Homo sapiens: one gene and its partners. The protein of the gene in region 3 interacts with the protein of the main gene of each other region in a biochemical or structural test. Each region holds a gene or a part of one and is shown on either strand. Other genes may lie near its edges.

The links.
Region 1: the proteins of PJA2 (region 3) and MFHAS1 form a complex in vitro, tested with the Homo sapiens proteins (one study listed by BioGRID).
Region 2: the proteins of PJA2 (region 3) and MOB1A form a complex in vitro, tested with the Homo sapiens proteins (one study listed by BioGRID).
Region 4: the proteins of PJA2 (region 3) and KSR1 form a complex in vitro, tested with the Homo sapiens proteins (one study listed by BioGRID).

Annotation. Positions count from the first base shown.
Region 1 is NC_000008.11:8,890,610-8,898,059, forward strand, and holds the start of MFHAS1 (malignant fibrous histiocytoma-amplified sequence 1), read right to left. Parts: upstream 3,022-7,450; 5' UTR 2,450-3,021; coding exon 1-2,449. UniProt on the Homo sapiens protein: Probable GTP-binding protein. Functions in innate immunity and more specifically the inflammatory response as a regulator of the Toll-like receptor TLR2 and TLR4 signaling pathways.
Region 2 is NC_000002.12:74,175,867-74,183,324, reverse strand, and holds the start of MOB1A (MOB kinase activator 1A), read left to right. Parts: upstream 1-4,445; 5' UTR 4,446-4,650; coding exon 4,651-4,664; intron 4,665-5,010; exon of another isoform or gene 5,011-5,070; coding exon of another isoform or gene 5,071-5,210; intron 5,211-7,458. UniProt on the Homo sapiens protein: Activator of LATS1/2 in the Hippo signaling pathway which plays a pivotal role in organ size control and tumor suppression by restricting proliferation and promoting apoptosis.
Region 3 is NC_000005.10:109,399,973-109,406,994, forward strand, and holds part of PJA2 (E3 ubiquitin-protein ligase Praja-2), read right to left. Parts: intron 1-7,022.
Region 4 is NC_000017.11:27,452,111-27,459,459, forward strand, and holds the start of KSR1 (kinase suppressor of Ras 1), read left to right. Parts: upstream 1-4,337; 5' UTR 4,338-4,533; coding exon 4,534-4,764; intron 4,765-7,349.

The DNA of each region.
Region 1 (7,450 bases), on a different chromosome or scaffold from region 3:
AGTCCTGCTGGGCCTGGACATGAGGCTTAAGCAGCAACCGAATGACATGAGCTGGCAAGAGCCCATGCAACAGAAAGCCCTCCACATACTGATGGAGCTGGGTGGCCCGGAGCAGTTCCTGGCTGGGGGTGGACCGCGCCATGGGCGGGGAGCTTTCCCCCTCCGCCTTGCCCTCTCCACTGGTCCCTAGGAGCAGCTTATGCAGCAGCAAAGAGGGATCCCTCTGGAAGAAGACATTGAGGATGTCGATGAGGCGGGTGAGGTTGTGGAAGACGTGCTCCTTGAGAGCCGGACTGTCCTCAAAGTAGAGTAGCTTGCCGCTCTCATGCAGGTAGGAGAGGGCACTCTGCAGTCGGTCCTCGGTCAGACCCGCCTGCAGGCCCAAGCGCGCCGAGTCCCACCAGCTTAGCCACAGTCGCTGGGCCTGAGGTGGCTGGAAATGCAGTTCCTCCAGCACCTGCCAGGATCGAGGCAGTACTCTGTGTAAGTTGGGGAAGATCTCTCGGTGCTCAGCAACTGACAGCAACTTGTCCCGAAGGCGTCGTAAGTGGCGCGGGTCCCTGCAGCTAACAGGCAACACGGGGGAGAGGATCTGCAGCCGGTGGTTGAGCAGGTATTGAAAATGGGCCTTGCGCCGTCGAAGGTTCTTGTCCGAAACGCCATAGTAGGCTGCGTGGGGGCTGGCAGAGCGCAGCTCGAAGTCCCGGGCCAGTGCCTCGTCCACCACCTTGGCCAAGCGGCTCAGTCCCTCCGCGTCGTGCTTCTCCTGCAGGGCGATCTGGCGGTGAATGTCCAGACATTTCTCCTCCAGCTCACGCTCTCCGCACAGGTCTGCGTGGGTGCCCACGATGCACACCACCGCGTGGGGCACTCTCGCCCCGACCCGATGCAAGAAGGAGCCCACGGTGGTAGGAAAGTGGCGAGGCTCATAGGTGGCCAAGTTGACCACCAGCACGTATAGGGCCCCTGGGGACAGGAAGAAGGGCTGGATCACCTCATAACTTTCATCCCCAGCTAAGTCATACACGATGAACCGCAGGCCCCGGGAGGCATCGGCCGTCCAGCTGGTCACCTCGATGCCCTTGCTCACAGGGGGAGGTGACGGTGGGTAGCACTTCTCCTTGTCCCCTCCTCCTGGGCATCCCTCCACTCTCTCCTCGGTGAGGCAGTGGCGCAGCAAAGTCTTTCCTGCAGCCTTATGCCCCATCAGGAGCAGCTTGAGCCGGGGCTGCACCGCCGGCTGGGAATGAGCCAGTTCCTTCTGGTAGGCTGCGATGTAGGGGATCCCCTTCATGCAGACCTCGTAGGGGGGCTGGATCAGTGGGTTGTCTTTGATCTTCCACAAACCCACCCGGGAGAGCTGGCCAAAGTGGTCGGGCAGCACCGCGATCTGGTTCCCCTGCAGCACGAGCTCCTCCAGGCCGGTCAGCTCCACGATGGAGTCCGGCAGGTAGCGGATGCGGTTATTATCCAGCCACAAGGTGAGAAGCCGGCCCAGGCCCGAGATAAGGGATGGCACCGAGGTGAGCTGGTTGCGACTAAGGTAGAGCTCCTCCAGACCAGCCAGGGGCAGCAGCGCGGCAGGGAACTCCTCGAAGAGGTTGGAGGAGAGGTTGAGCATTTTGAGCCGCTGCAGGCAGCTGAACTGGGCGGGCAGAGCCTGCAGCCCGTTGTTGTCTAGCATGAGGCTCTCCAAACTGGCCAGCTCGCAGAAGCCGGCGGGCAGCGTGCCAAGCTCGGCCCCACTCAGCCAGAGGATCTTGAGGGCACGCAGGGCACTGATATCCTCAGGCAGGCCCCGCAGCCGGTTGCTGGACACGTCCAGCTCCTCCAGGGCCACCAGCTGCAGCAGCTGCCGGGGGAAGGCAGTGAGCTGGTTGTGATCCACGTCCAGGGTGCGCAGGCGGGAGAGGCAGGAGAGGGAGTCAGGCAGGTGCGCCAGCCGGTTAAAGCTGACATCCAGCTCCTCCAGGTGAGCGAGAGCGCCCAGCTGGGCGGGCAGGGCGGGCAGCTGGTTGTGGCTGAGGTTGAGCTTCCGCAGCTCCCTCAGAGCACTCACCACCTCCGCGCCCAGGGCGGTCAGCCGGTTGTGGCTCACGTCCAGCTCGGTGAGGTGGTGGCCGAGCTCGGCCACCGCCGGGGGCAGCCGGGCGAAGCGGTTCCTGCGCAGGACCAGGACGCGCAGGCTGCCCAGCGCCGACCCCAGCCCCTCGGGTACCTCCTCCAGGCCGTTGTTCCCCAGGTTCAGTGCCTCAATGTCCCCGAGGTTGGCCGGCAGCACGAGCTGGGGGGAGGCGGGGGACTCGAGCGCGTCGGCCCCGGCCCCGGGGCAGGCCCCGGCGGCGGTAAGCGTGAGCTGGCGCAGGTTGCTCCGCAGCTTCCTGGCACGCAGGGCGGCGTCCCGCCACAGCCTCGCGGTCTTCAGGTTGCCACTGTCCATCCCAGCCATGGCGGGGCCCCGGGCCGACAGCCTCACGCGGACGCGGGAGCCCGCAGCTACATGCCGCGCCGCGCCCCGGGCCCTCCGGCTCCTGCCCCTGCCTGCCCTCCCGCGCTCGGCGGCCGGCGGCCGCGGGTCCTAGCGCAGCCAGCGGCCGAGCGCTGGCGGCTAGGGGGCGGCGGCGACGCGAGCGGCTCCGGGGGACGCCGAGCGCGTGGAGAGCAGCTTGCATTCTCCCTGCGGCCGGGCCATGGGCGCGCCGGGCAGCAGGGCCGCCGCCCGCGCGCCGCGGAGGATGCCTGCTCCTCCTCCCTCTCCGCCCGCCGCGCGGCGCCTCGGGGGGCCCGGCTCCGGCCCCGCTACCCTCGCAGCCGCGGTCCCGCGGCCGGCAGCGGCGTCGCCTCCTCGAGCTCCTGGGGGAGGGCGGCGCTCGGCCCGGCGGCGGGCATGCTGCGGGCGCAGGGCTGGGGCGCAGCCGCGGGGAGGGGGCGGCGGCGCCTCCTTGTCTCCGTTTCCCCGGGCTCGGGCGGGAGCGCGGGCGCCGCGTCCCCGGCGCTGGGAGGGCGCGATTGGGAAGCGGCAGCGCCGCCCGCCGGAGCGGCCCCCACGTGACCGGCGGAGGCGCCGCGTTTTCCCGGCACCGCCCCGGGGGCGGGAGCTGCGGAGGGCGCCGGGTGCGGGGCCGGGGGCGCCTGGCGCGGGGCCGGGTCCGCGCCCCGGACCATGCTGGGCGGGGAGGTCGTCCCAGCGGCGGATGTGGGGCTCCGGGGCCCCCCTGGTGGGTTCGCCCGCGCCTGGCTCTTTGTTGGCCCCCAGTCTCTAAGGATTTCTTTTTCTTGTTCTCTAATGCGTCGGATCCGCCGGCTTCCCTTACTCATCCTTTACCTGCTCCCCTGCCGCTCGCCTTGCATCCACGCCGTAGTGGAACTGGCACAACTCGGGGGCCCTGGGTATCATCATAGAAGCTTAGGACAAGAGTGTGGTTAAACAAAATTAGAACAGGCAACCATTCATTCATTTGGTAAATATTTCCTGAGGCCCTATTTCGTGTTGAACATGGGACAGGAGTAATGCAGGCTGGTCAGAGGAGAATAAAAAATACCAGGCAGCAGTTTCACTTGACTGGAGGCTATGGGCTGATAAGACCCTGAAAACCAGGGTGTGTACCAAGCTGGCTAAGACCGGCTGGACCCGACGTGGTCCTGGATTTGACCTAGGTTTCTCCTAGGCCTCCATTATACGCTCTTTAACATCCTAAGTCACACCAGTGCCATGACAATTCCGGGGACACCCATATTTGAAGTAAAAATGGGTGGCACCACAGTCCCGAAAAATCTCCACACTTTTCCAGGAATTTTCATGAATATTTCACCCCTTGGTTAAAGAAACCCATAAAGGTAGCAGCCCCAAGCCCCGTTGTGAGTGACCCTCTCCACAATCCCTTTTCCTGGGTGTGTACTTTTCCCTTTGCAATAAATCTGCATATTGTCACTATTTTCTGAGTTGTCCTTGAACTCATTCTCTGGATGTGTCAAGAGCCTGGACATTGGCTGGGGTCAAGGTCGCACTGGCTTTAGAGGATCTCCCCCAGCCCACCCGTACCAGAACTACTAAAAGACGGTTTTAACCCCCCTGGGGAAGGCTTTTGAGCAGGTGGCCCGCCAGCCTAAAGGAGGGTTGTTAAGATGGGGGGGACACAAGCTGTTTATCTGGGGTATCCCGTTTATCTTCACAACAACGCTGTGAAACAAATACTGTATCCCCATTAATACAGTACCTGTTGTTCTGCGGACTCAAGAAAACAGCTATTTTGGGAAACAGTCACAGTCCATTGTTCAACTCTAATGCTTATTTTTATTGCTGTTAGGAAATGTTTCTTTGAGCTCACATCTATGCTAAGTCAATAATTTCTCCCGAACTTATGAAAGTCTGGAAACCTACCAAGACTCCCAGTGTCACCTCCATCATTCCCTTCAGGTTGATTGATAAGGAAGCAAATAGTTTTCAGGGACCGAAAACTGCGTTCAGTTGGTTAAAGGCATCACTTGACCCACTGCAGCTCTCCCCGACATGCGCTATGGCTGTCATTTGGGGACCCATATTTGGTGCAGTAACGTGAGAAGTGTGTGTTTCCAAAAAGAGCACCTGAACATCTGAGGCTGGAAATCCACCCCAGTGATGGTTATCAGGCTGCAGGTAGTACATGCTGTAACTGGAGGATGTTCCCCAGTTCTGCTGGGTCCCTGAGGCTCTGACACCACAGATGAAATGTGAGTAAGTGAACAGCAAGAGCTGATCTGTGTTCACTCTGAAGGACTTCCGAGAGTTCAGATGGCTCAGGGTAGCCCCACCCACACTCCCTCCCAGAGACAGTCAATTTTACAACAAATATTCTGAGTTATCTAGGCTGACCCTTTTTTTCCCCCACAGAGGAGGAAATGGGCTCAAAGTAAGTGACTTCTCAATCAGCCATCAAAGTAGAGTAGAGGCAGGACTGCTAACTCCCCGTGTGGAATGTATTCCCCTGTGATCATCACCTGTACTCACACTGTTCTTGAGCCAGACCCCAAATTCTCCATCCTGCAGCTTCTTCTAACAAAAATATGAACTCAGCCTGGGTAAGGAGACTGGAGTAGGCATCACCATCCTACACCACCTTACATGATTATATCTCAATAACTGCTAACTGTTCCTCTTTAGAAGCCATCAGAAAATTATACTTCCTCCTGCAGAAGCTGAAATCAATTGAAAAAAATGAAAATTGTGCTTGCTTCAGCAGCACATATACTAAAATTGGAAAAATACAGAGAGGATTAGCATGGCCCTGCACAAAGATGACATGCAAATTCATGGTGTTCATTTATTTAATAATATTTTCATTTAAAAAATTATTTTAAAAAAGAAAAATGGCCGGACATGGCATCTCATGCCTGTAATCTCAGCACTTTGGGAGGCCGAGGTGGTGGATCAGTTGAGGTTAGGAGCTCAAGACCAGCCTGGCCAACATGTCAAAACCCCATCTCTACTAAAAATACAAAAATTAGCCAGGCATAGTGGTGCGCACCTTTAGTCCCCAGCTACTCAGGAGGCTGAGGCACGAGAGTTGCTCGAAACCAGAAGGCGGAGGTTGCAGTCAGCCAAGATCACACCACTGCACTCCAGCCTGGGTGACAGAGTGAGACTTTTTCTCTGAAGAAAATTATATTTTCCTTTCTTTTCTTTCTTTCTTTTTTTTTTTTTTTTCTGGAGATGGGGGTCTTGCTTTGTTGCCCATGCTGGACTCGAACTCCTGGGCTCAAGCAGTCTTTTTGCCTGAGCCTCCTGAGTAGCTGGGATTATAGGCATAAGCCACCCTGACCAGCTTATACTTCTATTTTAAATGTCCTTGGAAAACTGCACTCTTCATTTGTCAGGAGATCATCTATAATTTGCTTTATCTAATAAAAAGTACTGGCTAGGACCCTGCGCTAGGGGCTTCAAGCCCCACTAAAGCCCCAAAGCCTGGAGTGAATAAGTGTGCTGGGGGTGGCAATTCTTTGTGAGCCCCTCAGCTGATGCAGTCAATATAGTAGGAAGCCTTGTAAGAATCCTTGTCTATGAGTTCTTTGAAAGTCAGTATGTGAATGGGCACAGGGGTATATGCCTGTAATCCCAGCACTTCCAGAGGCTGAGGCGAGCAGATCATTTGAGCTCAGGAGTTCGAGACCAGCCTGTGCAACAAGGCAAGACATCATCTCTACAAAAAATACAAAAATTAGTAGGGTGTGGTGGCGCACACCTGTAGTCCCAGCTACTCAGGAGTGACGCGGGAAGATCACTTGAGGCTGGGAAGTGGAGGCGGCAGTGAGCCAAGACTGCACCACTGTACTCCAGCCTGGGAAACAGAGTGAGACTCTGTCTCAAAATACAACACAACACAACAAAAGAAAGTCAGTATGCTAAAAACTAGAAAGTCAAATGATAAAAGATAACTCAATGATAAAAGAAAACTCTATGAAAAGATATTGTGTTCCATATAGCTTTAAAATTTTTTTTTCTTTGTGCTTTCCACTTTCAAAGAAACTGCTTCGTAAAGAACTATAGAAATGATTCCTGGGCTGGGTGCAGTGGCTCACACCTGTAATCCCAGCAGTTTGGGAGGCCGAGGCGGGCAGATCACAAGGTCAGGAGTTCGAGACCAGCCTGGCCAACGTGGTGAAACCTCATCTCTACTAAAAATACAAAAATTAGCTGGGCATGGTGGTGGGTGCCTGTAGTCTCAGCTACTCAGGAGGCTGAGGCAGGAGAATCGCGTGGACCCGGGAGGCAGAGGTCACAGTGAGCCGAGATCATGCCACTGCACTCCAGCCTGGGCAACAGAGCAAGATTCCATCTCAGAAAGAAAAAAGAAAGAAAGAAAGAGGATTCATGAAAGTATCATCTTTTCTGTTTTTTCATTGAGACAGGGTCTGCTTATGTTGCCCGGGCTGATCTCGAACTCCTGTGCTCAAGTGATCCTCTCAAGTATCAACCCAGGCAAGGACTCCTGCCGTGGGCACCTAACCTGGCCCTCCTCTCACCATGCTGTACCCCGTGTGGTTAAGTTTCTGATGGGCCAAGGGGGCACGCCCCCTCCACCTTCTAGAACACACATGGTATGGAGGACCCTGAATTCCCAATGCAAATAGCCTCAAGCCTGGATGGGGAGCGTGGGGCAGTCTTTCATAGTCATTCGAAAGAAGTTATTGAGGTGGGCATCCCTAGACCTGGGGGTTGTGCAGGAGCTGGACCTCAGCTGTGTGCCGACGAAGCTCCTCTCTGTGCTGGATGTAGCCCAGGCTAGGGCAAGGAGTGTGAATGTGCCACATCTGTTAGGGTGATGTAACACATTTAGATATTTAGGCATGTGGCATGTGGGCCTTCCCGTGTACCCTTTCCCCAGGCCCTGCAAAGGATAAGCGTGGCCCTGCAAATGGTAGGGTTTTTCTAAAAGCAAAAACAACAACAACATTGTTTGGAGAAGAGGAACTC
Region 2 (7,458 bases), on a different chromosome or scaffold from region 3:
TTTTTTGAGACACAGTTTTGCTCTTATTGCCCAGGCTAGAGTGCAATGGCGTGATCTCGGCTCACCGCAACCTCCACCTCCCAGGTTCAAGCGATTCTCCTGCCTCAGCCTTCCCAAGTAGCTGGGATTATAGGCATGTGCCACCAAGCCCGGCTAATTTTGTATTTTTAGTAGTGATGGGGTTCTCCATGTGGGTCAGGCTGGTCTCGAACTCCCGACCTCAGGTGATCCGCCCACCTCGGCCTCCCAAAGTGCTGAGATTACAGGCGTGAGCCACCGCGCCTGGCCTATTTTATTTCATTTTTGAGTCAGAGTCTTGCTCAGTCACCCAGGCTGGAGTGCAGTGGTATGATCTCAGCTCACTGCAGCCTCTGCCTACTGGGTTCAAGTGATTCTCGTGCCTCAGCCTCCCAGCCTCAGCTGGGACTACAGGCACACGCCACTATGCCTGGCTAATTTTTGTATTTTTTTTTCTTTTTCTGTTTTTTTTGAGACAGAGTCTGGCTCTGTCGTCCAGGCTGGAGTGCAGTGGTGCGATTTCGGCTCACTGCAACCTCCGCCTCCAGGGTTCAAGTGATTCTCCTGCCTCAGCCTCCCTAGTAGCTGGGACCACAGGTGCACGCCACCACGCCCGGCTAATTTTTGTATTTTTAGTAGAGATGGGGGTTTCACCATGTTGGCCAGGCTGGTCTCGAACTCTTGGCTTCAAGTGATCTGCCGACCTTGGCCTCCCAAAGTGCTGGGATTACAGGCGTAAGCGACCATGCCCAGCCGCTGAGTGAGTTTTTGATTTCTGATAAATTGGGATTTCTCCTTCACAGTCTGCAAAGTCTGCAACCTGAGTACTGAGATAATGGACAGGGACAGCTTACCAACTTATTTTATTTTATTTTTATTTTTTTGAGGCAGGGTCTCTCTCTGATGCCCAGGCTGGAGTGCAGTGGCACAGTCTCCTTTCACTGCAGCCTGGACTTCCTGGGCTCAAGGGATCCTCCCACCTCAGCCTCCAGAGTAGCTGGGACTACAGACTCAAGTCACCATGCCCAGCTAATTTTTGTATTTTTTGTAGAGAAGGGGTTTCACCATGTTGCCCAGGCTGGTTAGCAACTTTACTGTTTGTTTCTCTTCACCTATTTGTGACAAAGATTAAAATTCCTTAATCTGTCACAGGAGTAGAGTTTTTTGTTTGTTTGTTTTTGTTTAAAAAAAAAAAAAAAAGCTTGAGCTCCCAACAGCACCAACTGGCTGGGAGGGGCAGGAACGTTACTGCGACCAAAGTGGGAAGATGCCCTGTGTGGGTGAGGTTGTTAGGGTAAAACGGGAGTTTTGCAAATGATAGGATGGGCACTTACACAGAATGAAAATGCAGAGTTGCAAATCCTGCCTCAGGGAGCTAGAAAGGGGAACTGTGTGTGATGAAAGGCGGGTGGGGAGAGGTTCAGAAGATCTAGTCCTGGAGGCCTCATAATTTGCCGCTTAGCTTCTGCTTTCAGCATCTGCTGTGACCAGATGGTGTGCAGTGATCTCTGGCCGGCTAAGCCAAGAAGTGAATAAAACTTCTTCGGTCTTTGTATAGACCTTGTCTGGTAGGGAACAAATTGTCCTGTAGCAATTAGCAATGAACAATTTCTTTTTCTCTCTTTTACTGGAAAAATCTTATCTTTGATATCTAAGTGAACTATGTTGATATCGTGCTTAAATATTGATTGAGGATTTTTCCCTAACCCTGAAATCCTCCCTCCCTGCTACCCCAACCAAATTTAGCCATCCTGAAAGGTTTTTCTTATAAATAGCTGGACTTCTATCCTCAGTGATTCTTCAACTTGAAGAAAAATACCATTGAAAGAGGGAAACCTTTCATGAATTTCTTTTTTCCCATGTTATTTGGAAATTGTTTTTATGATATTATTTAAGTAATATAAATTACCACAGAAGTATAAATAGATGTACCTTTTTTCTTTTTTTTTTTTGAGACAGGGCCTCACTTTTGTCACCCAGGCTGGAGTACAGTGGTGTGATCTCGGCTCGTTGCAGCCTCTACCTCCAGGGCTCAACCCATCCTCCCGCCTCAGCTTCCCAAGTAGCTGGGACTATAGGCGTGCACCCCCACACCCGGCTATCTTTTTTTTTTTTTGTAGAGATGGGGGTTTGCCATGTTGCCTAGGCTGGTCCCAAACCCCTGAGCTCAAGTGATCTGCCCACTTTAGCCTCACAAAGTGCTGGGATTACAGGTGTGAGCCACCTCGCCCGGCCTAAATCTGTGTTCCTATATTTGTAACTTCCATATAGCGATATCAAATCGCATTTATTTATAAATCAAATTCCAAAAAACTACAAAAGTTTAAAAAATTAAAATTATTAATTTATTTTTTTCAGGGGAGGAAAAAGAGTATGTAAATTTGCTTTACATAACTGACTGAAAAATATATTCAAGAAATAGTAAATATAATTTAATACAGTCTCATGTGCCCTAACATCATTAACTTAATGTGACAAGTGATATATGAATGAAATAAAATTACTGGAAACATGAACATTGTGCAGTCAGGTACAGGGCAAACTCCTTTACATTGAGCACCCTGCACCACCATTTGCTGAGCTATGACTGAAGTCTCCCACTATTTTCCTTTTGTTTTCTTCATTCCACCATGGTGGAATGAAGGCGTTGCTTGGCTGTCACTTGGCATTAATACCACACAAAAGCCTGTACATGAATGTTCACGACAGCATTATTAATAATAGACAAAAAGTGGAAACAACCCAAATGTTCCTCAACAGATGAATGGGTAAACAGAATGTGGTATATTCACATAATGGAATATTACTCATCCATAGAAAGAAATAAAGTTTTTTTCTTTTTTCTTTTTTTTTTTTTTGTTTTAGAGACAGGATCTGGCTCTGTCACCCAGGCTGGAGTGAAGTGGCGCCATCTTGGCTCACTGCAGCCTCCATCTCCTGGACTCAAGGAATCCTCCCGCCTCAGCCTCCCGAATAGCTGTGACCACTGGCACACACCATTACGCCTGGCTAATTTTTGTGTTTTTGTAGAGGCGGGGTTTCACCATGTTGCCCAGGCTGGTCTCGAACTCCTGAGCTCAAGTGATCCGCCAGCCTCAGACTCCCAAAGTGCTGGGATTACAGGCGTAAGCCACAACTGTGCCTGGCCAGTAATGAAGCTTTGATACATGCTACAATATGGGTGCGTTTTAAAACATTATGCTAAGTGAAAGAAGTCAGTCACAAAAGACCACATAATGTATGCTTCCATTCACAGTGTATATGAAATGTCCAGATTAGGTAAATCCATGGAAATAGAAAGTAGAGTAGTGGTTGCCAGGGGTTGGGAGGAGGGAGGTGGGTAATAAAGAGTAACTGCTAATAGGTATGGGGTTTCTTTTCGGGGTGATGAAAATGGCCTAAAATTATGGTTAGGCTGGGCGCGGTGGCTCACGCCTGTAATCCCAGCTTTGGGAGGCCGAGGCGGGTGGACCACTTGAGGTCAGGAGTTCAAGACCGAGACCAGCCTGGCCAACATGGCGAAACCCCGTCTTTACTAAAAAAAAAAAAAAAAAAAAATACAAAAATTAGACGGGTGTGGTGGCGCACGACTGTGATCCCAGCTACTCGGGAGGCTGAGGCATGAGAATCACTTGAATCTGGAAGGCAGAGGTTGCAACGGGCCGAGATTGCACCACTGCATTCCAGCCTGGGTTACAAAGTGAGACTCTGTCAAAAAAAAAAAAAAAATTAGTGCTGATGGTTGGCACACTTTGAAAACATAAACAAAGCCGGAGGCAGTGGCTCACACCTGTGATCCCAGCATTTTGGGAGGTCAAACCAGGAGGATCCCTTGAGCTCAGGAGTCCAAGACCAGCTTGGGCAACACAGTGAGACGCTCGTCTCTGCAAAAACTTTGAGAAAATTAGCCGGGCGTGGTGGCAGGCACCTGTGGTCTCAGCTACTCGGGAGGCTGAGGCGAGAGGATCACTTAAGCCCAGGAAGTCCAGGCTGCAGTGAACTGTGAACTCCAGTCTGGGCGACAGAGCGAGACACCTCAGAAAAAAAAAAAAAAAAGAAAGAAAAAACCGAAAAAGACCACTAGAGGGTACATGTTTAAAGGACAGATTTTATGCTATGTGAATATATTTCAAGTAAAAATTAAATTAACAATTTTAAAAATTGCAGGAGTACGCAGCGCTTATAGAGGTCCCTGCATAACCTAGGGAGCGGGATCGAAACCCAGCAGCACCAAGATACTCTAAGAGCAGGACCAGCCACTGCCCCTTCCGCAGGACCGCCATCCTCGCCACGCCTCCGGGGGAGGGAGGTCCTGGCTTGGAGAGCGATGATTGGCCGAGTTCTAGGACGAGGCGGAGCGAAAGGGGGCGCGACAAGTCCCTCCCGGCGCAGCGAAACCTTAGCTCGCGAGATTTTGTTGGTTCCGCATTTCGGGTCTGCGAGGTGGGGTAGGCGGGCAAGGCGGGCGCCGAGGTTTGCAAAGGCTCGCAGCGGCCAGAAACCCGGCTCCGAGCGGCGGCGGCCCGGCTTCCGCTGCCCGTGAGCTAAGGACGGTCCGCTCCCTCTAGCCAGCTCCGAATCCTGATCCAGGCGGGGGCCAGGGGCCCCTCGCCTCCCCTCTGAGGACCGAAGATGAGCTTCCTCTTGTGAGTGGGGTCGGGCCGCGGGCGCCGGGCCTGCGGGCCGAGGTTGTGGGGGAGGCCTCCCCGGACCTGAGGCGAGGGCTCGGCCTGGGGGCCGAGGCGGGGGCGGGGTAGCTGGCGTTTGTTTTGCCTCTGTTCGGGTCCGCGGGGGAGGCCGAGATGTTGGGAGAGGCCGACAGAGATGAAGGTCGAAGTAAAGGAAACGGAGCGTGAAGGCTGGGGAGTAGAAAGGCCCCGGGGCCGTCGCGCCTCCAAACTTTTCCGCCCGAGCGCCCCCGAGGGCGGGGAGACGATCTGGGGGCGGAGCCGCGAGCCCCCAGTTTCTCTTGTCTCGAGCTTCTAGAAACCGTCCTTGCCGACTTAACTCGTTGCTCGGTTATAGGTCCAGTTTCATTATTGTCGGTGTTAAATGCCGCCCCAGGAGAATGTGCGTTGCCGCAGTTTGAGAAGCTTGAAGTTAAGATGCTGGCCTTGGAGTCGGATCGTTCTGTCCAGTTCTGATTCTGCCCACTTACTGGCTTTGATTTTAACCAACTTCTCTTGTCCTCGGTAGAATCCTGTGTTTTTAATCATTATGTAATATACCATACAGCATTATTATATAGTACATTGCAGTATTATAAATAATTTGGAAAGTTAAAACAAATTCATAGTCCCATTGCAGAAACACAGTATTGCCATTTTAGTGCACTACAGCAATTAACTTGATAGGCATACCTTAGAATCTCATTTTAGAGATAATGCCTGAGCCCAACCAAACAAGGCTAAAATGAAAAAGCTTGTAAATTCCCTGATGATTCTTATGCACATTAAGGTTTGAGAAGCATTGCTCTGGCACAGTATTTTTTATTCTCAGGTGTCTCTCTCTACCTTGTATATTGCTTAAATGTGTGTTTTGTGATTGAATAATTATCCAATTTTAGTTATGGATGTAATCCACATGCTTGACATTTTTATTAAATACAATATAAAAACACTATATAGTTTTTTTTTTATTTTTTATAACCAGAGTTTACCCACTTTATTGTGAGAAACTGGGATTCCTTCCAGTATTTACTATTATAAAATAGCACTACTCAGAATATGTTTATCTGCGTCTCATTTTCCTTCCTTTGGGTTATTCTCGTAAATGAATGGTCTCTAAAATACGATTACCTTGTCAAAAAGCCTGTATGATTTAGATTTAACTTCCATATTAATAGAAGTATTCCTCCCTCCTCCACTTTTTTCTTACGAGTTGATATTTAATTAGTGAATGCACAGTTGCTTTGTGGACCTTAATACGAGACTTTTTCTTTTTTTTTATTTTTTGAGACGGAGTTTCGCTCTGTCCTCCAGGCTAGAGTGCAATGGCACGGTCTCGGCTCACTGCAACCTCTGCCTCCGGGGATGGCACGGTCTCGGCTCACTGCAACCTCTGCCTCCCGGGTTCAAGCGACTCTCCTGCCTCACACTCCCGAGTAGCTGGGATTACAGGCGCCGGCCACCACACCTGGCTCATTTTTGTATTTTTAGTGGAGACTGGGTTTCATCATGTTGGCCAGGCTGGTCTCGAACTCCTGACCTCAGATGATCCACTCCCGCACTCGGCCGAGACTTTCTTTTTTTAAAACTTGGCCTTCTTGATGGACACTTGAGTTGTTCCCGCTTTTTGGCCATTATGAATAATGCTGCTGTGAACATATGTGACAGGTTTTTGCGTGGATGTATGTGTTCATATCTCTTGGGTATATACTTAGGAGCAGAATTGCTGGCTTAAGTGGTAACTATGTTTAACCTTTTGAGGAACTGCCAAACTTCAAAGTGCTGCACCATTTTACATTCCCATAAGTACTCTATGAGGGGTCCAATTTCCCCACACCTCTCATAGCACTTGTTAATTTTCTTTTTTTTTTTTTTTGAGACAGAGTCTTGCTCTGTCGCCCAGGCTGGAGTGCAGTGGCTCAATCTCGGCTCACTGTAAGCTCCGCCTCCCGGGTTCACGCCATTCTCCTGCCTCAGTCTCCCAAGTAGCTGGGACTACAGGCGCCTGCCACCATGCCTGGCTAATATTTTGTGTTTTTAGTAGAGACGGGGTTTCACCGTGTTAGCCAAGATGGTCTCAATATCCTGACCTAGTGATCCGCCCACCTCGGCCTCCCAAAGTGCAGGGATTACACGCGTGAGCCACTGCGCCCGGCCTTGCCTGTTTTTAAATTGGGCTGTCTTTTTGAGTTGTAGGACTTCTTTATACATTCTAGATACAAGTCTTTATCACATCTATGATTTGCAAATATTTTCTTCCTTGTTCAATATAGTTTTTTTTATCATGTTAAAAACTTTTCAGATATGATTTTTAGTGTTTTCATCATTCTTTTTTACCTCCTTTTTTTTTTTTTTTTTTTTTTTGAGACAGGGTCTCACTCTGTTGCCTAGGCTGGAGTGCAGTGGTGCGATCTCAGCTCACTGCAACCTCTGCATCCCGGGTTCAAGCAATTCTCCTGCCTCAGCCTCCCAAGTAGCTGGGATTACAGGCACTTGCCACCACGCCCGGCTAGTTTGTGTGTGTGTGTGTGTGTGTGTGTGTGTGTGTGTGTGTGTAGTAGAGGCGGGGTTTCACTATGTTGGTCAGGGTGGTCTCAAACTCCTGACCTCAAGTGATCCACCCGCCTTGCCCTCCCAGAGTGCTGGGATTACAGGTGTGAGCCACTGCACCCGGCTCTTTTTTACTTCTTAATCAGTCTTATTTAAATTCCAAATTACTCAGGTAAAGTAAAAGTCCATAGTTCTATTCCATTCCTCTTCCTAGAAGTAATCA
Region 3 (7,022 bases):
GGGGAGGAAGCTTTTAGTGAGCTCAAGATAAATCAGGCCAGGCTCAGTGGCTCACACCTGTAATCCCAGCAATTTGGGAGGCCAAGATGGGTGGATCACTTTAGGTCAGGAGTTCAAGATCAGCCTGACCAACATAGTGATACCCGTCTCTACTAAAAATACAAAAAATTAGTGAGACGTGGTGGTGCACGCCCATAATTCCAGCTACTCAGGAGGCTGAGGTACGGAGAATCGCTTGAAGTCGGGAGGCAGAGGTTGCAGTGAGCCAAGATCACACCACTGCACTCCAGTCTGGGTGATGGACTGAGACTGTCTCAAAAAAAAAAAAAGAAAAAGATAAGTCAAAAGAAATGATCCAAGCCTAGATAAAAAGTGATTTAACTGAAAAGAAACATGTTAAAAAACAACAGCAACAAAAACCAAAACAGAGCCTCCAAGAATTGTGGACTGCATTAAATGAGCTGCCATGAGTTTAACTGGAACCCCACAAAAAGAGAGCAAACCAGCAGGGGGAGGGGGGGGAAGGGCGGGGGGGTGTCGCGGGCAGTGGAAACATTAGAAGAGAAAGATGCTGTGAATTTTTCATACATTATTTAAAAGATCATAAATCCCAAGAAGCTCAGTGATTCCCCCCTACAAAAGCAGTATAAATACAAAACACACAAAAATGTACACATATCCCAAGATGTTAACATCTTTAACCTGCTATAAAAAACGAATGATATGGCCGGGCATGGTGGCTCACACCTGTAATTCCAGCACTTTGGGAGGCAGAGGCAGGTGGATCACGAGGTCAGGAGATTGAGACCATCCTGGCTAACATGGTGAAACCCCGTCTCTACTAAAAAAATACAAAAAAAATTAGCCAGGCATGGTTGCGGGTGCCTGTAGCCCCAGTTACTCAGGAGGCTGAGGCAGGAGACTGGCATGAACCTGGGAGGCAGAGCTTGCAGTGAGCCGAGATGGCGCCACTGCACTCCAGCCTGGGAGACAAAGCAAGACTCTGTCTCAAAAACAAAAAACAAAACAACAACAACAAAAAAACCAAATGACACATGCCTGTAATCCCAGCACTTTGGGAGGCCAAGGAGGGCAGACCACTTGAGGCCAGGAGTTTGAGACTAGCATGGCCAACATGGTGAAACCCTGTTAAATACAAAAATTAGCCAGACGTAGTGGCGGGAGCCTGTGATCGCAGATACTTGGGAGACTGAGGCATGAGAATCACTTGAACCCGGGAGGTAGAGGTTGCAGTGAGCTGAGATGGCGCCATTGCACTCCAACCTGGGCGACAGAGTGAGACTCTGTCTCAAAAACAACCGCTACCACCACCAATGACAGCCTGGGCACAGTGGCTCAGGCCTGCAAATGCAGGATTTTTGGAGGCTAAGGTGGGAGAATTGCTTGAGTCTAGAAGCTCAAGGCTATAGTGAGACAAGCTTGTACCACTGCACTCCACTTGGGCAACAGAGCGAGACCTTGTCTCAAAAAAAAACAACAAATAAAATAAAATTTAAAAACCACTGATAAAACATATTTGATACTGACAGCAGAAAAAAGGAACTAAATAAGAATCACAGCCAAATTCTTATTTGAAACTGTGCAAGTCAAAAGATAATAAATAGCATCCTTAATATTAGAAAAACACTGTGAACAATAAATTTATATCCAGCAAAATCTTTCAAAAGAAAAAGTGAAACAAAGTATTTGTGAAACAATCTTTGGAACTTTGTTACCAGTAGAATTGAAGTCCAAGAAATGTGAAAGGAAGTTCTTCATGCAGAAAGAATAAGCACTGGAAAAGAGGCCACTATAACACAGAAAATCAATTTTAATTTAACTTGTACTAACTACTTTAAATTCAAATTTAAATAGCTACACTGGCTAATGACTACCATACTAGACAGCACAGGAATAAAACAAATATTACAAGGTATTATGCATTTATGGCATTTGTAAAAGGTAAAACAGTAATAGCACAAAAGATAAGGAGAAATTGTAAATATACATTGTAAATATACTGTTGTAAAGCTCTGACACTATATAAAATGTGGTATAGTATTGCTTCCATATGGTCTATTATTAAAGATGTAAAATATAAATCACAGAGAAGCCAATTAACTTTTTAAAAGAGAGGAAAAGTTGAGTGTAAGTAGTGAGCCAATGGTGAAGATAAAATGCACTCAAAAATAGGCATCAGAGAGCACATAAGTAGAAAACAATTAAGATTGTATATTTAAATCCAACTACATCAAAATTACATTAAATGTAAATAGTCTAAACACTTCAATGTAAAAACAGATTTTTCAAGATGAATTAAAAAAGGCTGTCTAGAACAAACCCATTTTAAATAAAAGACAGATTAAATGGATGGAAAATAATATACAAACACTAAAAGGAGGCTGGAGAGGCTGTATTAATATTAGATAAAGTAGACTTTGGAATGAGGAATACTATCAGAGATAAAGAGGGCATTATATAATGATTAAGGGGTTCATTCACCAAAAAGTTTTAACAATCCTAAATTTACATGCACCTAACAGGAGGTTCAATACACATGATGCAAAAACTGAAAAGGAGAAATAAACAAACTTACCATTATACTTGGAGACTTCAACTCTTCTCTCAATGATCAATGAAACAAACAAAAACTCAGTAAGGAAAGAGAAGGCCTAACAAGCATCATCAATCAACTTGATATAGAATACTCCACTGCTAAACAGCAGAATACACATTATTTTGAAGTGTACATGGGACATTTACTGAGAGTAACCATATTCTGGTCATAAAACAAATATCAAAGAATTTAAAATAAATTATACAAAGAAAGAGACATGCAAAATCACCAAATATTTGGAAATTAAACAGCAACCTTCATGGGTCAAAGTGGAAGTGACATAAGAACTTTAAAAAAAATCAGTGCATCAAATTTGTGTAAGCACCTCAGGCAGTGCTTGGAAGGAAAAGAAAAAAGGTCTCAAGTCAATGACCTAAGCTTACACCTTAATAAATTAACATAGAGGAATTTAAACCCAAAGCATATAGAAAGAAATAGTAAGAAGCAGAAATCAATAAAACTAACAATTAAAAAAAAAGCAATCAAATAAAAAGTTGACTCTGAAAAGATTAATAAAATAAACCTAGAACCAAATAAAAATGAGAGGTCACACTGCTAATAACAAGAATGAAAGGAAAGACACCACTACAGACGTTATAGGCATTAAAATAATTAAGAAACAACTTTATGACAACGAATAAATGAAATAAGACAAATGCCTTGAAAGACAAAAACTACTAACGCTCACTTAGTGAGTGAAAGTGATTCATACAAAGACCGAAAGCTTTCAAGAAGAAATAGATAACCCTAATAATCCTGTATTTATTAAAGGATAATTGGACTTATCCTTTGAAGCCTTCCAGCAAAGAAAACTCTAGGACCAGAAGAGTTCACATGCAAACTCTAAAAAAAATTGTAAAACAAATAATACTAATCCTAATAAATTCTTTTTCAAAAATATAAGAAACACTTTGCAACTCTATGAAACCAGCATTATATGAAAAAGTATCTTTCATGAACATAGATGCAAAAAAAAAAAAAATTTCACCAATTTATAAAAATGATAGTAGATAATACACCATCACCAAGTGAGGTTTAACCACAGAATGGAAGATGATTCAACATTCGCAAATAAGTTAACGTAATTCATCACATTAACACAGAAACAAACCATATGATCATCTCAATAAATACAGTAATAATACCTGACTAAAATCAACATCCACTCATGATTTAAAAAAAAAAAAAAAAAAAACTCTCTGCCAGGCGCAGTGGCTCATGCCTGTAATCCCAACACTTTGGGGGGCCAAGGCGGGCAGATCACGAGGTGAGGAGTTCAAGACCAGCCTGGCCAACATGGTAAAACCCCATTTCTACAAAAATACAAAAAAGTTAGCCAGGCTTGGTGGCGTGTACCTGTAATCCCAGCTACTCAGGGGGCTGAGGCAGAAGAATCACTTGAACCCAGGAGGCGGAGGCTGTAGTGAGCTGAGATGGTGCCACTGCCCTCCAGCCTGGGCAACAGAGCAAGACTCCATCTCAAAAACAACAACAACAACAACAACAACAACAAAAACCTCTCAGCAATCCAAGAATAGAATGGGAACATCCTCAATATGATAAAAGGCCACTTGTCTTAGTCCATTAGGACTCCTATAACAAGCTCCCATAGACTGAAGTGGCTTATAAACAACAGAAATTTATTTCTCGGCTGGGCGCGGTGGCTCACACCTGTAATTCCAGCACTTTGGGAGGCCAAGGCAGGTGGATTACCTGAGGTAAGGAGTTTGAGACCAGCCTGGCCAACATGGTAAAACCCCGTCTCTACTAAAAATACAAAAATTAGCCAGGCATGGTGACATACGCCTGTAATCCCAGCTACTCGGGAGGCTGAGGCAGAATTGCTTGAGCCTGGGAGACCGAGGTTGCAGCGAGCTGAGACTGCCACTGCACTCCAGCCTAGCCGACAGAGCAAGACTCTGTCAAAAAAAAATAGAAATAAAAATAAAAGAAATTTATTTTTCACAGTTCTGGAGGCTGGGAAGTCCAAAATCAAGGTGCTGGTAGATTCAGCGTTTGGTGAGAGCCACTTCCTGGTTCACAGACTGCAGTTTTTTCACTGTGTTCTCATACGGCATAAGGGGATAGGAGCTCTCTGGGACCTCTTTTATAAGCACACGAATCCATTAATGAAGGCAGAAGCTTCATGACCTAATCACCTCCTTGAGATCCCCCTCACAATGGGGATTATGTTTCAATGCTATGAATTTTGGAAGGGACATAAGCATTCAAGCTATAGCACCACTCTATCACACTCAATAATGAAAGATTCAAAGCTTTCTTCTTAAGATCAGGAACAGAGAAGGATATCTGCTTTCACCACTGCTATTCAACATCATAATGGAGGTCTTAGCCAGTCTAAGAAGAAGAAAAGGTGGAAGGAGTTACATATAAATTCAAAAATAATAAAACTGATCTATATTTGCAAATAACATGATTGTCTACATAGGACAATTCCAGAGAATCTACAAAAAATTTACTCAAATGAATGAATTTAGCAAGGTTGCAAGCATCAAGGTCCATATGCAAAAACCAACTGTATTTTTACATATAGCAGTGAATAACTGGAAACTAAAATTTAAGAAAATTATCACTTATAATGGTATCAATTATTAAATACTTAGATATAAATCCAACAAAATGAGCAACATCTTCATGCTGCAACTACAAAATGCTGACAAAGGAAATGAAAGAAGACCTACATAAATGGAGACAACCTGTATTCATGAATTGGAAGACTCAAGATGTCGATTCTTCCTAAATTGATCTATGCATTCGACACAAACCAAATTAAAATCCCTTCAGGTCTTTTTGTAGAAACCAACACGCAGCCTCTAAAAGCTTTACGGTAAAGTTAGAATAGCCAAGGCAATTTTGAAAAAGAATAAAGTTCAAGGATTCATATTACCTAATTTCAATACTTATAAGTAAAAATAACCATGATAACTCAGTACTGGCAAAATTATAGGCATAAAGATCAAGAGAAAAGTACAGGAACAGATTTACATATATGATCAACTGACTTTTGACAAAGTTAATTCAATGGGGAAAGGAAAGTAGTCCCAACAAATGGTGCTAGAACTACATATACATTTGAAAAGAAAATGAGCCTTGACCCTTACTACACACCATATACAAAAACTAACCCAAAATGGATAATGTGCCTTGACATGAAAGCCAAAACTAGAAAACTTATAGAAAAATCCTAAGAGTAAATCTGCACAACTTTGCATTAAGCAAAGAGTTCTTAGAACACAGAAGCACAAATCATAAGAAAAAGTTGGTAAGATGAATTTATCAAAATTAAAAGCTCTTCTTTTAAAGTTAGGAAAATAAAAAAAAAACAAGCTTCAGATTGCAGTGTGTGTGTGTGTTTATGTATCTCTGTGTGTCAAATGAGTTGTATAAAGAATGTATTAAAAAATGCTTACAACTCAATAAGACAAACCCATTTTTTTTTTTTTTTTTTTTTGAGACGGAGTCTCGCTCTGTCGCCCAGGCTGGAGTGCAGTGGCACGATCTTGGCTCACTGCGAGCTCCACCTCCCGGGTTCACGCCATTATCCTAACTCAGCCGGAGTAGCTGGCACTACAGGTATCCGCCACCACGCCCGGCTAATTTTTTGTATTTTTAGTAGAGATGGGGCTTCACCGTGTTAGCCAGGATGGTCTGGATCTCCTGACCTCGTGATCCGCCTGCCTCGGACTCCCAAAGTGCTGGGATTACAGGCGTGAGCCACCGCGCCAGGCCCACCCATTGTTGTTTGTTTGTTTTTTAATGAGCAAAAAATGTCAACAGATACTTCACAAAGGAAGACATACACTAGAGCAAATTCTCAGCACCATTAGTCATCTGGTAAATGCAAATCAAAATCCCAGTATGATACTACTATATACCCACTAAAAGGGCTAAAATTTAAAAGACTGAAATAACCAAGTGCTGAGGATGATGTGGAGCAATTGGAACTGTCATACACTGCTGATGGATATGTAAAATGTGACAACCACTCTGGAAAACAGTTTGGCAGTTTCTTATAAACATCCATGTATCATACAACCCAACAAGTTCCATGTCTAGGTATTTACCAAGAAAAAAAAGATGTTCACAAAAATTCAAAATAAATGAATGTTCATTGAATAAAGGAATGTTCAACAAATGAAGGCTATTTATTAATAACAGCCCCAAACTGGAAACAATCCAAGTATCTGTAAATAGGTGGAATGGTCAACAAACTAGTAAATCAATACCAAGGACTTCTATTCAGCAATAAAATGAGAACCCGTTAAATACAGAAAAACATGGATAATCCTGAAAAACATGCCAAGAGAAAAAGCCAGATACAAAAGAGTATGTATTACATCATTCCACTTACATGAAATTCTAGACAAAATGATACCAATTTATA
Region 4 (7,349 bases), on a different chromosome or scaffold from region 3:
TGATGTTCCCACTGCCTGGAGTGCTCCTTTCCTGGAACATTCCACATGGCTTGCTTTTCCTTATTTACATCTTAGTTCAATGGTCAGATAATAATTCTCTGTCCACTTCACCTAGTGAAGTACCTTAGCCACCAGAGACTCTCGGCTATTTGCTTTCTTCTTCTTCTGCGTAGCACTTATGATTCTCAGTTTATTTTGGTAATATATTTGTTGACATTCATTTCCTGTCCTTCCCTTCATGTATGTTCCACAGGGATAAGGACTCGGCTTCCTTCGCTTTGAGCCTACCCCAGAGCCTGGCGCATGCTAAGTGTCCTCTTCATGTTTCTTGGGCCTGTGCATGAAAATGCTCCCACCGCTGCTGTTGGTGTTTGGATGCAGACAAGCTCGGAAAAGCAATGAAGGGACCCGAGACAGAGGAGAGGAAGGAGAGAGTAAGCAAACTTTCTCTACTGAGGTGCCTCAGAAAAAGCCTCAAGAACCTGGAGATGATGCTGAAACCCTGAATCAACACATAATAGATCAATTCATCTAACTAGAAGAGATTCATTCTGGAAGGTGAGGAAGAAAGTAATGCATAGTTCAATGAGTTAAGCATTTGGAACAGTTTCAGTAGACATACAGTAAATATTTATCAAATAAATAAATATGCCGAACCCTTATTTTATGACCATTACTTTGTGTTATATAATCTGTTCATCCTCATAAAACATTATCACCATCTTGCAAATAAGAAGCTGTGCTACCAGATTAGGAGATTTGCCCGAGGTCATATAAGACTCGTCAAAGGTCATACAGCGATTCAGAGACAGAGCTGACTACCCTACTCTCTAAAACAGCTCTATTCGAAGTTGTAAAGGCCATATTCCCTGTCCCCTTCCCTGCAGTGCCATACCACCTGTTACCACTGACACACTGTGCATTTATCTGCTTGTCTGTTTCCTCTCACCACAGCATAAATTCCCTAAGGGTAAGAATCTTCATTTTGTTCACTACCCTTTTCCAGAGCCCAGAACAGGGCCTGCCATGTAAGTGGCACTTCATGAATGCTTACTGAATGTTAAAAGGATGAATGAAGGGATTATTTAAAAATCCTTATTTCGGCCAGGTGCCATGGCTCATGCCTGTAATCCTAGCACTTTTGGGAGAGTGAGGCCAAGAACAGGAGTTTGAGACCAGTCTACATGACACAGCAAGACCCTGTCCCTACAAAAAATTTAAAAATTAGTCAGATGCGGTGGCAGGCACCTGTAGTCCCAGCTACTCAGGAGGCTGAGGCAGGAGGATGGCTTGAGCCCAGGACTTTTGAGGCTGCAGTGAGCTTTCTCGCACCACTGCACTCCAACCTGGGCAACAGAGCAAATCCCTGTCTCTTAAAAACAAAAAACAAAAACAAAAAAGTTTCTCCACCTCTGAGGGGCAGTTCTGTAAACTTGTGGCTGACAGATGACTCAAATCCAGGCAAGAAGGCTGGAGGCCATCTGTGAGGAAGGAAAACTGTGGCCTGCTGAATGCTCTGGATAATCAGAGGGAAGACTGTATCCACAGAGGACAGACTCGCTGCATGGAACCTGGCGGGAGAGTAACCAGGGAGCTGGCATTTGTCCAGTCTCAGGCTCTGACATCACCCCTGTGGTGACATGGGTGGGCATGAATGCCACAAGCTGGCAGTGGCTCTTCTCAGGATGTGGCTTCCCACATAAAGTGGCCCTAGAGGGAGAATGTGATGACCAGGTCCCTGTGGCAATAACAAGTTTGATGTAAGTGCATAAATAGGCACTTACCAGAACATTTCTTGTGAGCCAGGCATGGTAGTTCACGCCTATAATCCCAGCACTTCAGGAGGCTGAAGGGGAAGGATTGCTTGAGCCCGAGAGTTTGAGACCAGCAGCCTGGGCAACGTAGAGAGACTCCATTTCTAAAAAAAAGGAAAAAAAAAAAAAAGTTAACGTTAGCCGGGCATGGTGGCACACTCCTATAGTCCCAGCTACTTGGGAAGCTGGGGTGGGAGGATCGCCTGAGTCTGGGAGGTCGAGGCTGCACTGAGCCATGATCATGCTACTGTACTCCAGCCTGAGTGACAGAGCAAGACCCTGTTTCAAAAAAAAAAAAATCTTTTGTGAATTGTGTTAGAATGAGTGAGTCGTTCAAGCCTGGCAGCTCTGGCTGCTGGACAGAGGCTCTGAACCAGCCAGGTTGGGTTGTGGATAGTCCCTTGAGATAGTTCTCTGCCCACTGACCTTCCTCTGTGCCTAGGCTTCTCAAAGTATAGACTTGCGACTGGGCTCAGACTAACCACATCAGTACCACCTGAGAACCTGATAGAAATGCAGATTCTCCTGCCCTGTCCTCTGATCTACAAAATTAGAAACTATAGAGGTGAGCTCCATGGTTCTGGGAATTAACAAGCCCTCCAAGTGATTCTGATGCATGTTCAAGTTTGAGAACCACAACTAGTTTCCCTTTCATAATAGTTACTACTTTGCAAGGAGTCGGATGGGGTTAAGGTAACAGGTTGAGAAATTCATAATATCGTGCAGGCGGTCTTTTTATAAGTTGAGTGAGGACTGGATCAATGACTCTCAATGGGAAAGGCCAGGGGTTAGGGAGGAACCTCCTTGCATTTGGAAAATCTCGAGGAGGGGTTAATTTGCAAAAACAAGTTTTAAAGTTATAGTTTTGCTTCCTAGACCTGATTTTTAAAAATTTATTATTTTTTTTAGAGACAGGGTCTTGTCACATTGCCCAGGCTGGTCTCGAACTCCTGGCTTTAAGTGATCCTTCCCCCTTGGCCTCTCAAAAGTGCTGGCATTACAGGCATGAGCCACGGTGCCCAGCCCTTAATTTATTTCGAAGGCTGGTGTAATATAAACATTAAAGGAAGGTGTAATACAAACTGCCATCCATTATTGATTGTTTTAGTGTCTACAAGGTTTGGATCCCACCTCCTGTCCAATTCTCATCCTCAAACACAAAAACAAAACCAAAAAAACAACTGTCTATCTACACACACACACACACCCTCGGCTGGCCTGAGAGGTAAAAGAAACATCCCATAGGACCTGCTGAAAGAGCTCCTGAGGCACGCTGGAGCCTTTCTTGTGTGCCATGCACTGTATCTGGCACTATAAAGAGGGTACAATAGCTAGTGGCTTCTGCAATCAAGCAGCTTACAAGAGAAAATTGAGAGGGGAGACATTTTTTCTGGTTGACAGATGTCGAAAGCATGAAGGTGTGGGAGCTTTGATCAGAGACTTGGTTTTTCAGTTTTGCCAGATAATAGAACGCATGGGGTGAACTAATGGGAGAGGAGGGTGAACAGATGGGCAAGGCTTGATTGCTGGGTTAGGAGGCACAGAAATGCACAGAGGACAAAGGACTACCAGTCCTTGGCAGTACTGTACTGCTCCATGGCCACTACCTGGGTCCAGGGCCACATTCAGATCTGAGGTTAGATAGTAAGAATTGCTAACATTTATCCAGCGACCACATGTGCCAGTAATCAATCTAGGTGCTGTACATGTATTAACTGATTCTTCATAGGAACCCTATTAAAGAGTTATTTGATGAGGAGAGTCGGGCATTCACTGGAAATCGAACGTGCCCAAAGTCTCACCCTAGACCGTGGTGGAGTCAGAATTTGAATCCTGGCCACTTGCTCCGAAGCCACCGACAATTCAGTGTGCTGTCCCCCGTGTCTGGGCTGGCTTGGTGGGCTGGGAATGGCGGGGGAATGGGACACTTATTTTGGCAGGTAAATGTGGTTCAGAAGAAAGCTCTTCGTCTTTCTCCAAGCCTGAGCAATCGTTTTGGCGCAGGCAGTCCAGAGTAGAGCGCTTTGTGAGCCAGCTACAGAAGTGCTGTAAGCCCCTTCCCACTAGATGGCAGCCCCTAAACCCACATACAAATCCTGGAACCTCCCTGGTCCCCATCTTCCAGGGCTGGGCTGCAGCTGAGGAACTGCGGGACGCACACCCGCCGGGCGTCCAGGGGGCGCCGCCCCATCCGGGGGTCGCGGGAAGCTCCTAGGCCGGGTGGGGGACGGAGGCGGACGGGGAGACGCTGCTCCCCCGACTCTCGGCGCCTGGGGGAGGAGCTGGCGCGGAGCAGCTCCACCCGGGGCTCCCGGTTGGGGCCGGCCCTCACCGCCTGCCTCGCCGCGGCCGCCGGGAGGGGAGGGGAGAGGAGGGCAGGGAGGGCGGCGCGGGCGCGGTCCGGGGCCCCGAGGGCGGAGGCCGGCGGCAGGTGCGCGGCGTGGACTACAAGTCCCAGCATGCCCGGCCGCCCTGACCCAGCCCCCGCCGCCGCTTAAAGGCTCCGGGAGCCGCAGCCGTCGGGTCGCCGCGGCTTTCGCTTTGCTGCCGCGGCTGGGAGGGTGGAAGCGGCAGACTCAGCGGCCGGCTCTACCGGCGTCCCGGCTCGGGCAGCGCCGAGGGGCGCTCCTGGTCCAGCTCTCCTGGCTCGGGGGTTCCTTGCCGAGGCGCCCGCGCCCCGGGCTCCCAGCCTCGGCCGCCGCGGCCCCGATGCCGAGGCATGGATAGAGCAGCGCTGCGCGCGGCGGCGATGGGAGAGAAGAAGGAGGGCGGTGGCGGGGGGGATGCGGCGGCCGCGGAGGGAGGCGCAGGGGCCGCGGCCAGCCGGGCGCTGCAGCAGTGCGGGCAGCTCCAGAAGCTCATCGACATCTCCATCGGCAGCCTGCGCGGGCTGCGCACCAAGTGCGCTGTGTCCAACGACCTCACCCAGCAGGAGATACGGACCCTGGAGGTAAGTGGGTCGGGGACCAGGCTGGGCTCGAGGAGCGGGCCCGGACACCTCCCTCCGGGCCCCAGTACTCCTGGCCGAGTTGCATCCTTGAGCCCGCGTCGCCCCCCTTGGAGGCTTCCCCTCCCTCCTGCACTCGCTGATGCGGCAGCCGGAGGACCCGGGACCAGCCCTCATCTTGGGCAGGATTTGTGGGGCGGGTGCGTCGTGGGAACTGGGATGGAGGCTCGAGGGGCCCGTGCGGGGTGGGCTGCGCGCGGACATCCCCTTTCCCCCCTTCTCCGCCCCCACCCCATTTCCAGTTTGCGGGGCCGCAGGACTCGTTGTCCCACCGAGTCACAAGCTGGACTTTTCCCCGTGTGACTGAGCCGAGCACCCGTGGGCCAGGGTGACGGAGGAGGTTCCCCTGAAGCGTGATCGCAGGCCTGCCGTCCCCTGTTCCCCTCACGCCCCAGACGCCGTCCTGTCCCTTCCTTTCCTCTCCTCTCAGGTCTTGTCTGCCGCCTTTTCAAAAAGTGTTGCTGAAACTGCATTTTTGTTATTCAGGCGTTTGGTGCTTTCCTTTCACGTTGCCACGGAGGCTCGCTGCTTAAAATGTATTAATAATTACCCGCTGACTCCCCCTGCTTCCCCCCAAAGATTGGATTTAGGCTTAGGAAGGATTATGCTGGGAAGCAAGCCTTTGGTGGGAAGATGAAACTGTTTAAAGGGTTCTGATGGAGACAGTCTGGAGTGTAAAGAAGAAATAAGATATGCGGGCCTTCCTCTCTCAAATTATAGCTGGGGAAGTATCTGAAGGATTTGGAAAAACCAGCCCGAGGGTTGTTGGGGCACCCTGTCCATACACAAATGAGGGCAACTAGTGGATTCTGAATGTGATTTTGGCCAGGGACGGGGCGGTGAAACGTCAGACCAGTTAATAGCTGCCCCGTCTTGAAGAAGGAACCTCTCACCATCTTGCCCTGCCACATCTGGCCTCCTGCAGGTCTGGGGATGTTTTGTTTTATTAGATCCTCAATTTCTCCTCCCCCAAACCCTCCCCCCGCCCCTTATTGCTAATTGCCTCTGCCAGCTGTCATAAGGCCCTCTGTGATCGCGGTAATTATTACAAGACCAATCCTTCCTCCAGGCATGCCACAAAGCCGAATCCTTGTTTGATTCCAAATGCTCGGGGGTGACTCTCCCTCAGTTTTATTTTCTTAAAAGCTATAAAACCACAGGACATTGGAAGAATACAGTCAGTGCTGGGTATTATTATTTTTTATTACAGTTGGCTAAAGCTGTACTGACCAAGGCTTTGCTTAAAAAACAAACAAAACCCCCTACAACTGGCCTTTCTGCATGCATGCTGCAGTTTTCCAAGTATTGAGAGAAACTGATTTTTTGAACACAGCTGAGTGTGTTTGCTCAGCAAAGTTCAGTTTTTAAGCTGACAACAATAGGGGGCCTGTGAGGCTCAGTTCCGGGAGGAGGGGTCGCTGTCTGGCAGAGTGTGCGTGGTTGGACTTCGGTGTTGCTGGGCTTGGAGAATGCTCTCTGTGTTGGCCTCTGTGGGATTGTCCCCACGTTGCTCTGAAGTGCTCCTGGCTTCCAGAGTGTGTATATAGGAGAACCACTTGCTGTGCATTCTCTGGAATGGCCTTTTGTCCTACCCTAACTTCCGGAGTCCCTCATTTTGATGGCAGTGTGGCGTTCATGACACCCCAGAGCATCCAGCTATTTAAGTGTTGGAGCTGGTTTATTCAGTGGCTTCCCTCCTGAGTGTTTGTTTAGACGATCATCCCTGGCAGCAGAGAACCCATCCAAAGGCCCACAGGGGATCTGCAGCTCCCTGTTCTTCCCACCGTGATGTGGATTCGGGTTCACTCCACTTCCTGAAAAGGCAGGGCCTGGGTTGTTTTGGGGGATGGGAATTTAGACCCCTGGAGTGAGTTCCATGGGGCTGCCACCAGCTAGTTTAGATGAGTCACTTCATCCCGGAGGCCTCAGCCTCCTCACCTGCAAAACAAGGAGGCTGGAGTGGATCTCTGAGGGCTCTGGAAGCTCGAAATTCTCTAGGTTAGAGAAGGAGACTTGGTTGGGTGAAATCAAATGTTTGTGATTGTTTTTATACTACCCTGGTTTAAGAATAACCCTCTTTAAGAATGGTTCTAAAATCCAGATTTACTGAACCCATAACATAGGGGTTAAGTTTATTAGAAGAATCTTTGCCATAGGAGCAGCGTGGTGAATAGGAAGCCCCATGGCTTTCATACTGGGCCTGGGTTCTGTCTGTGTGACCTTAGGCAAGTCCCATGACTTCTGAATCTCAAGCTCTCCTGTCTGTAAAATAGGAACGAGACTGCTCACACCTGCAGCATTTTGTCTGTCAGTCCGTGCTGATACTACGAAAAGAGTCTGCCTGGCAGCTGCCCCTAGTGAGGGTCCAGTAGCATTTATGGCACAGGCCACCACTAGGGAAACTTAACCCCTACTGGACCCTTGCTAGGGAAACTTAACCCCCTACTTTATGGGTTCAGTAAATCTGGATTTTAGGGAAAGGTACTTCTGCAGCTGCCTCTCATTTCATACAGGTGGGTGACACAAGC